Regions from separate parts of the Homo sapiens genome. Here all the other regions are linked to region 1. Evidence: fine-mapped expression QTL. A gene starts in region 1. Each other region holds a variant in brackets. All regions are shown on one strand. Distances are between the middles of the regions.

What was found. PIP is the estimated chance that this variant, and not a neighbour inherited with it, causes the effect. A credible set is the group of variants that fine-mapping cannot tell apart.
Region 2: its variant is the best candidate, but not a certain one, in a credible set for the expression of VPS36 in whole blood (Lepik 2017, PIP 0.86).
Region 3: its variant is the best candidate, but not a certain one, in a credible set for the expression of VPS36 in monocytes (Quach 2016, PIP 0.62).

Annotation. Positions count from the first base shown.
Region 1 is chr13:52,449,111-52,453,321 of GRCh38, reverse strand. VPS36 (vacuolar protein sorting 36 homolog) reads left to right here and starts at 2,688. Exons shown (of 14, transcript NM_016075.4): 1 at 2,688-2,823. The coding sequence starts at 2,728. RefSeq lists silencers at 2,442-2,501, 2,542-3,001 and an enhancer at 2,522-3,102.
Region 2 is chr13:52,724,973-52,729,213 of GRCh38, reverse strand. All of the region lies in intron 3 of CNMD (chondromodulin), which reads left to right. Among named protein-coding and RNA genes, the nearest start is that of CNMD, 13 kb to the left of the region's middle. The variant G/A (reference allele first, on the strand shown) is at 2,213.
Region 3 is chr13:52,573,987-52,578,227 of GRCh38, reverse strand. The region is part of intron 2 of LINC00345 (long intergenic non-protein coding RNA 345); the gene reads left to right. It also overlaps the pseudogene TPTE2P3. Among named protein-coding and RNA genes, the nearest start is that of LINC00345, 24 kb to the left of the region's middle. The variant C/T (reference allele first, on the strand shown) is at 2,344.

The sequences.
Region 1 (4,211 bases):
ATTGGGACTGAAAGGAACCATCTGATTCAGAAGGTGGGAGGTCCTGGCAAAAACATCCTGGGGATGGCTGGGCGTGGTGGCTCATGCCCGTAATCCCAGCACTTTGGGAGGCCAAGGCGGGTGGATCACCTGAGGTCAGGAGTTCAAGACCAGCTTTGCCAACATGGTGAAACCCTGTCTCTACAAAATATACAAAAGTTAGCCAGGCGTGGTGGCAGGCACCTGTAATCCCAGCTACTCGGGAGGCTGAGGCAGGAGAATCGCTTGAACCCAGGAGTCAGTGGTTGCAGTGAGCCGAGATTGTGCCATTGCACTCCAGCCTGGGCGGCAGAGTGAGACTCTGTCTCAAAAAAAAAAAGCATAGACCTAAATGTAAGAACCAAAACTATGAAGCTTCTAGAAGAAATTATAGGAGAAAATCTTAGTGACTTTGTGTTAGGCAAAGATTTCATAATCAGTATCAATATCTGGTTTGTGGAAAAAAGATTTCTTAAATAGGCAAATTCCATGAACTATGAAAGAAAAAAATACACTGAACTTCATAAAAATTAAAACCTTTTGTCTATTCATTTATTGCCATATATAAGCCACATGACGTTTCTCCTTGCTCCAGCCTGGATACAGGAAACCCTTATACGGTTGTCTATCCCAGCAGCTATCATATGCCAGGCTTCTATTTGTGTCCTACAGACTGTACATCCCTCAAGGGCAGAAAACATACCTTGCAAATGTCCTCACTGCCTAACATGTTGATAATTGCAAAGCCCAGGCATAACTGCACAGTTCCACATCTGATTAGGATGCTTAGGTCACATTACTTTCAATTAAAAAAGACTAAAAAGTTGGTAAACAATCAAATGCTCAAAAATCAGGCAATGATGGTAAATTGTGATATATATTGATAGCATATTACAGCAAATCAAATGTTTTCAAAGAACTTTTGGTTATTGGGTATATGGTCATGATGGAAATTGAAAGATATGAAATACAGAAGACACTGTTTAGAAATAGACCAAAATACACACAGGATTTTGGAACACGGTAAAAGTAGCAATTCATTTCGGGGGAGAGATGGCTTATACTCATTGGAAAGAGCCTTTCCTTTCTTTTAATGCCTAGCCACAGACCACTGACTCCACGACTGGGGGAAATGTGGAGCCCTGGGGGCAGAGAGCAAGCCTGCCCTCTGTCCCTCTGCCCCTGTGCCCCTCTGCCCACGTGGGCACGCAGCCTTAGTTAAGACCCCAATAAGTGGTAGGCTCTCTAAAATGTGTTCACAACCTTTAAAGCAGTCATTCTATTTTAGGAAGACACTGTAAGAAAATAATCCTAAAGAGAAAAATATGTATCAATTGTAGAAGGACATCTATAAGCTGCTCCATTTATTTATTTATTTATTATTTATTATTATTATTTTTGAAGCAGAGTCTCGTTCTGTCGCTCAGACTGGAGTGCAATGGTGCGATCTCGGCTCACTGCAACCTCTACCTCCAGGGTTCAAGCGATTCTCTTGCCTCAGCTTCCCGAGTAGCTGGGATTACAGGCACCCGCCACCACGCCGGGCTAATTTTTTGTATTTTTAGTAGAGACAGGGTTTCTCTATGTTAGCCAGGCTGGTCTCGAACTCCTGACTTGTGATCCGCCCGCCTTGTCCTCCCAAAGTGCTGGGATTACAAACGTGAGCCACCGCGCCCGGCCAGGTGTTCCATTTATAAAGCAAAATACAAAAATGAAATGGCTAGGGGCACGAGGCCGCCTGGTGGGTGAGAGCAGCGGCCATGGATGGCTTTGCGCAGACCAACAAACAGCTAAATTATAGAGGAACTACATATTGAAATGTAAATTCACGCATGAGGTCTGTATTAATATTGAAAATGCCTAAATAAAAATAATCTTTTTTTTCTGAGCCTGGGGGTGGGGGAGTGGAGTGGCGTGGGGGAGTTGGGGTGGAGGGGGAAAGGGTCTTTCTATGTCGCCCACTGGTGTCAAACTCCTGGGTTCAAGCAATCCTCCCGCCTCAGCTTCGGAAGCAGCTGGGAATACAGGCGCGCGCATCAAGCCCGGTTAAATAAAATCTGTTTCCCCCAGTTAAAAAAAAATTAATTTGTGTGGGTACATAGGTGTATATATTTCTGGGGTATATGGGATATTTTGATACAGGCATACACTGTATAATAATCACATCAGGGTAAATGAGGTATCCGTTACCTCAAGCATTTATCCTTTGTGTTACAATATAATCTTAAAGGGAAAAAAAGAGCAGCACAGGTAGTACTGACTGCAGCTGTACAGAAACAATGCGTGCCATAAATATTCATTTGAAAGAGAGGGGTTATGATTATTTACAATCATTAGCGAATGTAGCAACATTCTGGGCACTGACAAGAAAACTGCCACAAACATGCAGGCATAATGCACAATAAGCAAGTCCAAGCTGTGGTCGGGGCTCCCTCGCGTCCCTGTAAGCTCTGAATTTAGAATGGGGTGGACCGCCTGCTGATCAAGGGTTCTGAAAGGCCGGCGGCTAATGGACCGCCAGGGGGCGCTCCACGCACGTCTCCACGTCCCCGGGCGCACCTCGCAGCCGCGCCCGCTCGCTGCCAGGCCGCTCCCTCCGTCCCTCACCCGCCCCGACTCGCTTCCGTCCCGTCCGACGCTAGGGGGCGCCGCAGGCTGCCTGGCGCGCTGCTCGCGGCCTCGGAGGGCCGGGGCTGGGTGGCAGCGGCCATGGACCGCTTCGTTTGGACCAGCGGCCTCCTGGAGATCAACGAGACCCTGGTGATCCAGCAGCGCGGGGTGCGAATCTACGATGGCGAGGAGAAGGTAGGGCGTCTGCCAACCTTCCCAACGGGCTGGCGGAAGGGACCCCCGGTGGGCGCGCGGCCCGGCTCAGCGCGGCCCGGGTCGGCGCGGCCCGGTCCCCGGCTTAGCTCACGGCCCTCGGCGGCCCGGCAGGCCTCTGTGCGGGGTGCAGCGCTCTTGCGCTCCCCGCCGGTCGGTAGCACGTGGCGTGGGGCGCTCGGCTGCCTCCCCAGCGCGGGTCCCAACTTTGGCACGGTTCCCAGCAGGCGCGGATCGCGGCCGCTTCCCTCCGCCCGGAATGCTTCCGGGAGCGCACAGCTGCAGTGCCCGGGAGAAGGAGCGCTCGCCGTCTGCGGGCGCCGGGCGGCGATCCGGCAGTCGACTTCCTTGGCGTGGTTCCAGACCCCCTGACGACACCAACCTCGGCGTCGGCACCGGACAGCCCCGTTTCGCCTTTCTGTGAGGAGGGCGCGGTGGCCGTACAGTCCGTGCCCCAGCGGAAGCTTTAGCTTGGACCTTATGCAGTCGGAGGGATTAGCATATCTGGGCAGAGGGGTGAGGGATTGCTTCGAAAGGATTTCCTAAAGAGGTATCAGTGCTTCATTGGAATGCCCTTGCCAAAGGCTATTGGGTTTTTGTTTTGTTTTCTAATTGCTTTAGAAAGGCGTTCTGAGCGTGTTTTGTAAAGTGTTATATTAATAGTAGACCGTGCCTTGTAGTGCAAGCATAAATCTTAGAAGGTGCGTTTGCAAATCGAGAGGAGAAATAGGAAGTGTAAGTAAATATTTTGTAGATACTTTACTGAAACTATGAAATATCTTGTCCTGGATTGAAATGGATAAACTGGAATTAGAAAAATTTTAAAACTCATTTACCCACAAGCATTTTTGGTTTCCAGAAGTTTTAATTTGCTACCTCTCTTCCCTTGCCGTTTTATTAACGACACTTTCCGCTGTACTTTGATATAAGTTCCTCAACTCAGCTTTTCCTGGTAAGTGCTTACAGCTATTTAGAGGCACAGGTGACATTGGACCCAGGTCCTCTGACTCTCTTAGGGCATTTTCTATGGGCTGTGTTGCCTGTATTAGTGAGTAAAGGTCTTTTCCTTAAATAATTTGCTTGGACCTAACTTCACTTACTGCCTTAGCACTTCTTAATTTAATTAATTAATTTATTTATTTTGAGACAGAGTCTCGCTCTATCGCCAGGCTGGAGTGCAGTGGCGCGATCTGGGCTCACTGCAACCTCCGCCTCCCAGATTCAAGATCCTGCCTCAGCCTCCTGAGTAACTGGGATTACAGGCGCCTGCAACCATGCCCGGCTAATTTTTGCATATTTAGTAGAGACGGGGTTTCACCACATTGGCCAGGCTGGTCTCTAACTCCTGACCTCAAATGATCCGCCCGCCT
Region 2 (4,241 bases), 280 kb before region 1:
CAAGGATTTCTAAAGTGCCCTCTTGGGGACACGAACTCCTACCATCCTTGGGAACCTCTGGTTTAAGCCATAGAAATAGATGAGATACCTTAGAAAGAAAAAAATGTGCAGCCAAGGTAAGATTACATCACTGTTTTGAAAAAAGAATGTTAGATTCTTGGACTCTCCACTCATCACCCTTGCTAGCAAATTTCTTCATTACCACCAGCTTCTAAAGCCTGTTTGTTTGCAAAAACAGGAGGTTTGCTTGGCTTTCTTGTGCTTCTTTTAGTTCCCTCTGTTTAATCTCTTAATATATCTGGCTGCTTGATGTGGAGTTTTTGCTAGACACGGTAGTTAATATGTGTGAATTCTTTCCCACACTTCCTACCCCATGGGGGTTTCAGTTCTCACTGCGGTGTGTCGACTGTCAGAACCAACTTAACACTAGATTCCCATTCAGTGCTGCGAATCATTCAGTAGAATCAGCTTTCCCCTTTGGGGATATGGTGACGGAGATGTGTGCATTCCCTCCACACATCTCACATTCAGGGGATGTGTTTGAAGTTAAGAGAAAATGTCACATAAGAAGGCATCATCTCCCTCCCTGCCTTCTGTTTTTCAAACTATGAGTCCTAAATTTACATGCCAAATAAGAGCAGCAGCCCTACAGGAGGTAGCATAAGAGAAAGCAGTTATTCTCCACGTGTATTCCTCAGGCTGCCAGTGGAGCATCACTTGGCTTGTTAGAAATGCAGATTTTAGGCCCCACCCCAGACCTACTGAATGGGAAACTGGGGGTGGGGCACAACACTGTTTAATTTAACAAGTCCTCCAAGTGAATTTTTTTTTTTTTTTGAGATGGAGTCTCGCTCTGTCGCCAGGCTGCAGTGCAGTGGTGCAATCTTGGCTCACTGCAACCTCTGCCTCCTGGGTTTCTCCTGCCTCAGCCTCCCGAGTAGCTGGGACTACAGGTGCACGCCACCACGCCCAACTAATTTTTGTATTTTTAGTAGAGATGGGGTTTCACCATGTTGGCCAGGATGGTCTCCATCTCTTGACCTCGTGATCCTCCTGCCTCGGCCTCCCAAAGTGCTGGGATTACAGGCGTGAGCCACCGCCCTGGCCCAGGTGATTTTTTAATTTGCCTTTTTAAAATTGTTACATAATATTTTATATATTTATGAGATATATGTGATATTTTGTTACATGAATAGGATGTGTAATGATAATGTTAGGGTATTTGGTTTTCATTTCTATGTGTTGGGAACATTTCAAGTCCTCTCTTCTAGCTGCTTTGAAACATACAATACATTGTTGCTAACTATAGTCACCCCACTCTGCTACTGAACATTAGAACTTATTTCTTCTGTCTAACTGCATGTTTTTACCACCCACTAACCAACCTGTCTTCATTCCCCCAGCTCCACCCATATATCCTTCTCAGCCTCTGGTATCTATCATTACTTTCTGCTTCCATGAGATCAACTTTTTTAGCTCCCACATAGGAGAGAGAACATATGACATTTGTCTTTCTGTGCCTGGCTTATTTCATTTAACATAATGACCTCTGGTTCCATCCATGTTACTGGAAATGACATGATTTCATTCTTTTCTATGGCCAAATAGTATTCCATTGTGGATATATATATATATACCAGTGATCCTTCTCCCTTCCAAGTAGCTGGGACTACAGGCACACACCACCACACCTAGCTAATTTTTAAAATTTTTTTGTAGAAATGGGGTCTCACCATGTTGTGCAGGCTGGTTGCGAACTCCTGGGCTCAAGCAGTCCTTCTGCCTCAGCCTCCCAAAGTGTTGGGATTACAGGCATGAGACACTATGCTTGGCCCTTTTTTATTCTTTTTTATTTATTTTTGTCTGACTGGGTTATTTCAAAAGACTTCTCTTCAAGTTCTGAGATGCCTGAAATAGTCTATTGTTGAATCATTTTTTTTTATTTGAGACGGAGTCTGGCTCTGTCACCCAGGCTGAAGTGCGGTGGTGCCATTTCAACTCACTGCAACATCCACCTCCTGAGTTCAAGCGATTCTCCTGCCTCAGCCTCGAGTAACTGGGATAACAGGCGTGCACCACCATGGCCAGCTATTTTTTATTTTTTTGTATTTTTAGTAGAGATGGGGTTTATAGTTGGCCAGGCTGGTCTCGAACTCCTGACCTCAGGCGATCCACTCACCTTGGCCTCCCAAAGTGCTGGGATTACAGGTGT[G/A]AGCCACTGTGCCTGGCTTCTATTGTTGAATCTTTTAAGTGTATATTGTATTTCATTCAATGAATTCTTCAGTTCTATAATTTCTATTTCGTTCTTTTTCATAATATACATCTCCTTATTAAATTTCTCATTCATATCCTAAATTGTCTTTCTGATTTCTTTGTCATGTTTTTCAGTATTCTCTTGTATCTCACGGAGCTTCTTTAATATCAATATTTAATTTTTTTTCTGGGATTTCATAAATTTGTTTTTGATTGTGATCTGTTGCTGGAGAATTATTGTATTCCTCTGGGAGTGTCATGTTTTATTGCTTTTTCATGCTTCCTGTGTCCTTGTGTTGATATCTGTGCATCTGATTTAATAGTTGCTTATTACAGTTTTTTAAATTTGCTTTCATAGGTGTGGACTTTTGGTGTTGGTTAGGTAGGGCACTTCAGCTTTCATTCTGGGTGCATGCAGTAGTATAGTCTCTGTATGTTTTTTTTTTTTTTAGCTGTAAACAGCGTCGGTGGTGTCTGTGATTTTTCTTGGTAGCTTAAGGTGTGGTTGTTAATGAAGACTGTTCTGAAGTTTTGCTGGGGACCCAGGGGATTTTTGATACAAGGGAAGGTTTGTGAACCACTGATAAAAAGAAACTTGGGTCCAAAGGTTATTGCCATCACTTTAAAAGCTTTGTTACCTTGAACACCTTTCTCTTTCATATGGTAGTCTTCAACCCTGGCATCAACCCTTTAAATTATAAACACCTGGGGAGCTTTTAAGGCTCCCAATACCTGGGCCCCAAAGCAAACCAATCAAATGGGAATCTCTGGGAAGGGACCCAGGCGTCTGTGTTCTTAAACCCTCTACAGTGAATTCAGGTGCAGTTAAGAGCCAAGCCTCAGCAGTGAGCCTCGGAGCTCCTCTTCTGTAAAGTGGGGATAATGCCCCTGTCTCTCTGAGTGAGCAGTAGTGCTGGGAGAAATAGGTGAAATGAGTTACATATGTATACATGATTAATTAAGCCACAAGACAAATAATAAAGAGCTTGAGGAAGAATGAGCCTTTTCTTCTGTGTTTTGCAGTCCTTTACTCACCAGCTTCTGTAGGGCTCCTGGCTCTGTGACTACATAAGGTAGAGCTATCCATTAATCCCCTCCAGCATGACTTACATTTAATTTTCTTCTTCATTGTAAAGGGCTGAATCTTGAGCCAGGATCCCTAGATTTTAAGTGTTTTCTACCCCCATTCTTTATCACTGGCCCTGGTACCATTTCTATATCATTCCAACACTTGCCTCAACTCAACAGAGGACTGATAAGGTTCAGATTTGTGCTAGTATCTCCATTATTATACCATAAAAATTGTAGGCCTTTATTTTAGATTCACTAGTCCTGAAACTAACAGCAGCAGGAGGAGAGTAAACATTCTTGGGACAGAGCATCCTGTTACCCCTCATGTCCTCTGTGGGTAGAATCGGGGCTGTGCTTTCAGCCAAGACTGGAGCTTTGTGGCTGATGTTTCCCTTGAGGCAGTCCCTAGGCAGACCAAGAGAAGATATTGTTTATATCTCTCAGGAGACAAAAAAAAAACATCTAAGTCCTTGGGTAAGGTATAGAAGGAAAGTTCAGAACCAGGTGCTGTAGAAAGTTTTACTGTTTACTCTGGGCTCAGTAACCTAGGAAAATTCTGAATTCACAGAATTAATTAATTTGACCAACATCTTTTGAATAGCTTTGTGGGGTCACCAAAAAAGAAAACAGAAAAGATTCAAATACTGATCTCAAGAAGCTTATAACTAAGTAGGCTGTGTATAGCTGAGTAAGCATCCCAGTTGAGGAATGAAGACAGGAGGACTTATGGGAAAGCAGAGGAAAGACAGCTGCTTAGGCTGAGATGTTCAGAGAAGGCTGCATGGAGAAGGTGGCATTTCATCTGAGCTTGTGAATATAGATGGAATAACTAACATATTCTGTCCCAGCTCAAATATCATCCCCTCATTGAGTCACCTCCCCTGACTATGCTGTCTGTCTAAATTACCACCTCATCA
Region 3 (4,241 bases), 120 kb before region 1:
ACCACCTCAGGTCCACACGCTGGCTGTTATAAGAGGTTTCCTTTAGGGGTTCAGATGCATCACCTCCCTGCTACCTCTCTGGCAGTGGGAGTGGTGAGACCCCATCCCCTCTACACAGACACATCCTGCTTTCCCACCTCTACTGAGTGTTAAGCTGTGCAGGGGAAGCAAGGTTGGTGATGGAGAAATGGACATGGAAATGGAGGCCAGTTTCTCTCTGCACTTTCTTTCTCAAGTCCCGAAGGTGTACGACTGACCAATTTGCCTGCGTCCCTGGGCAACAGTGCATCCCAGCTTTATCTCTCTGCTTACATTCTGGAAGCAGGCAAATAGCTCTCATGATGTTTATATGGATTTTTACAACTGCTAATACTCGGTAACAGCTAGGTGGGTGAAAGATACCTCCATAGAGCCCCACTCTCTCGCAACCCTTTCCATTTTCATGTAGATTCAGGCAGGGAAGACCTAAGCGCTCCTCCTAGGAGGCTCTTCTTGACCCCCAGCACTGTGGCTGGGAGTGAGAGCCACAAGGTATGGGAGTGGCTGGGAGTGAGAGGGTTACAGATGGAGGACAGAGGGGAAAGAGAGAGCCCAGGGGGATGAGAAAAAAATATGCCTCTGAAAGAAGGTAAGAAAATGATATGATATGGAGACACCTCCACCAAGACAAACTCTCAACTAGAGGTGGTTTGAGAAATAACCAGTCTTGAAGGCACATGGGACCTCCTCCTCCCTCATCAGAGGCTCACTCTGCCCTGAAAAGTCCACCTTGGGTTGTGACCAGAAGAGCAAAGAGAACAGGAGAGATGGGAAGGGGATGAAGTCCTCCAAATTGGTGATGGAAAAGAAAAAGTGAAGAACATCTAAGGGCTGGCAATCAATGGGCAATTCCAGGAGGAGGGGCATACCTAAGGAGGAGTTTATGCATGAGGATACGTAAAAAGACAGGTATAAGTTAGGATCATCTGTGTATATAACAATGAGCAAAACCCTCCCAGAGTGGGAACCTTGGCCCTCCTGCCCAATTCTTCAATTTTACATAAACACTTACCATGAATCGAATAAATAACTAATCTTTTTATAAACAGTGTTTTTCTTGGAGGGAGATTCCAGTTGTAGCTATGTTTCACTTGTGCAAAATATCCAACATATCTATTCTGAAAAGCAACAGAAGCCTTACTTTAAGTGGAGATGAAAAGCCTGAAGTCAGCATTCCTATTTTCAGTTTTCCCTTTTTTTTTTTTTTTTTTTTGCATAAAGGTTAAGGGCAGTAAATAATTAAGGAAACATTTACTGGATGCCATTATGTTACTAGATATTTTGAGGGATGCTGCCTCACAACTATCTACCTTGGGGAAAAAATACTGAATTAAGTGCTATGGGGAAGTGACAAGGATGGAGCCAGGTCTTGTTGACAGGCTGCTTATGGTTGAGAGGGCAACTAATCAGAACCAACAACAAAACAGTTACAGCATTAGCAGTGTGCAGATAGAAGCTTAGTTGTGACTGAGTTAGAGGAAGGTGTGTGGTTTAGTGAAGAGCAGGTTCCTGGGCATGAGAGAATGCCATATGTGAAAACTCAAGAGGAATACCTCCATATCTCAGTAGCAGGTTTCCTGTCATTCTTCTCTTGTTCCTGACAGCTAGGATTTCTTCACTTTCCATTTCCCCAATTCTGTTTTCACAAGGAAGCCCCGGAATTCCCTTAGCCTTGTCCTTTTCCTAGGGCAAGCTGTTCACAGTGGCTCTCCTTGAATCTATCTTCAAGGAGTTGAAGAGCTCTGGTACTGAATCAACTGGTTCAGAACTCAAAAGTTGGCTGCGCTGGTGGCTCACACCTGTAATCTCAGCACTTTGGGAGGCCGAGGTGGGCAGATCACTTGAGGTCAGGGGTTCGAGACCAGCCTGGCCAACAGGGTGAAACCCCGTCTCTACTAAAGCTACAAAAATTAGCCATGCGTGGTGGTGGGCACCTGTAATCCCAGCTACTTGGGAGTCTGAGGCAGGAGAATTGCTTGAACCCAGGAGGTCGAGGTTGCAGTGAGCTGAGACTGCACCACTGCACTCCAGTCTGGGTGACAGACAGATTCTGTCTCCAAAAAAAAAAAAAAGAAGAAGTACTCATAAGTTCATGGACTCTATCTTACCCATTGAGAAATGTTCATAGAAGTAACAAACTGCCATACTTTCCTTTAGAAAGGGCCAGTCATGAGGAAGGCTCATGAAAGTTCTTAACTTAGGAGTAGATGTAGTCAGTAGAATGGCCCACAATGCAGGATCAGAATGTGATGGTATCCGAGAATCACCACCAGACACAGAGGGCACTCTGTCCTGAGGTCTTGC[C/T]AACACATCTCTCAAATGTGCAGCTGAGACCCTGTGTTGCCTTCTCAGTCAATCAGAAGAGATTCAGTTGCAGCCTTTGGTGTGCTAGTTCTGGACTAAAGTTCGGGAAACTATGCATGACTACAGAAGAGATGGGGATGGGGAGACGTGTGGGGTGAGTTGCTGAAGGAGCTCTATCTAACATCTCCTTGGCTCCTGCCACCAGATTCTCCACCTTCCCCTAAAGGCTGTAACCTGCCAGGGCCCTCAAGCTGCTTTTGCTCCCATGCTTCTTTCTACTACAACTTAAAACAACATGGACTGGTAGTAGAAATTCATACAACCAACCCATAGGAGGTACTCACTACAAACAAAGAAGATATTATGAGGAAAGGGTGGAAAGATGGGTAAGCCATGGGCCTTGCCTTTAAAGGGGAAACAGAAGTCACCACTTCAAATAGCTAGAGAACAATGCAAAGTGATATCATCCCTAAGAGAAACACAAAGGGCTTTAGGAACTGAAAAAGCAAGAGACTACTTCAGGCTGGGAAGGGAAAGGGACTCTAGGAAAAGGGGCATGAGAAATGGCACGAGGGAATCAAGTGTCCATGGGCTGGGAAACAGCACACAGTCTAAATGTGTTAGAGTGTGGGATGTGTGCATGCACATAGTGGAAGAAAAGGTTGGAAAAGTCAAACTGTGGATCTTGAGTGCCAGGTTGAAACATTTAGTTTATTGCTACTGGCAGTGGGGACATACTCTGGATTTTGAGCATGGAAATGGCATGAGTAGGGCTGCACTTCAGTAAATCCACACATTCCTTTTCGCTTAGGGTCTATGACTGTTCTTTGTCTGGTTTTGTTTTTGGCTTGGGTGTGGGAGAAAAGTATCAGTGGATAAGGCTGAGTTCTTTTGCCCAAACTAAACGGGGACAGTAGTTAGTGTTCTTATAACAGGGCCAAGAGTACTTATTCAGTTCCCACCACCTAAAGAAAAACTCATTTACAGCCACATCCAAATCTATTTGAGAATTCCCAACCCACTCTCACTTCGGTTTGAGGGGCAATATAGAAAAGGCAATATAAATGAGAAGCTGTGCACAGCATGGGCTTCAGAGTCTGACATCTAGATTTCAGTCCTTGGTTCAAAAGTTAATTTCTCTGAACCTCAATTTTCTAATTTATAAGATGAGAATCATAGTAGTGCCTACTCATAGAGTTACTGAGAATATTAAATGAGATAGTGAATGTAAAACTCTTAGAATGGTTCAGCAAAGTCTAGAATGTTGTAAATGCTATACGATAAACATTCTGGTTTCTGCAGTAAACAAATTACAAGCAATAAAAAATGGCAAGAAATCTATGAACTAAAAGAGACTTAGGAGACATAGCGACCAAATGAAATGTGTGGATGTTGTTTGAATTCTGACTGAAACAAACTAAATTTTCAAAGATTTTAAGACAATTTTGGAAACAAACATGGACTAGAAATTTGATATTAAGGATTTTTAAGGTGTAATATTTCAGATATGATAAAAGTTATTAAGGGTTTTTTGTTGTTGTTTTAAGAGTACTTAGATGTCATACTAAAATACTTGTGGGATAAAATGATCTGATGACTGAAATTTCCTTCCAAATAATCCAGGTTTGGGGAAAGCAAGAGTGGAGAGTGGGGTTGGGGGTGTGAGTGGAGTGGGAAAAGTATGGATGAAACGTGGCCAGTTGCAGGCTGAAATGATTGTTGCAGCGAAGTGATGACTACATGGAGATATATTGTATGATTCTCTGGACTTTTGTATATGATTAAAGTTTTCCATAACGAAATTATTTTTAAAAGAAAAAACAGAGTAACAGCATATGTTTCATATAGGTGTTATGGGTTTTCAATGAGATATGTAAAAGTGCAGTACTGTCTGGTAT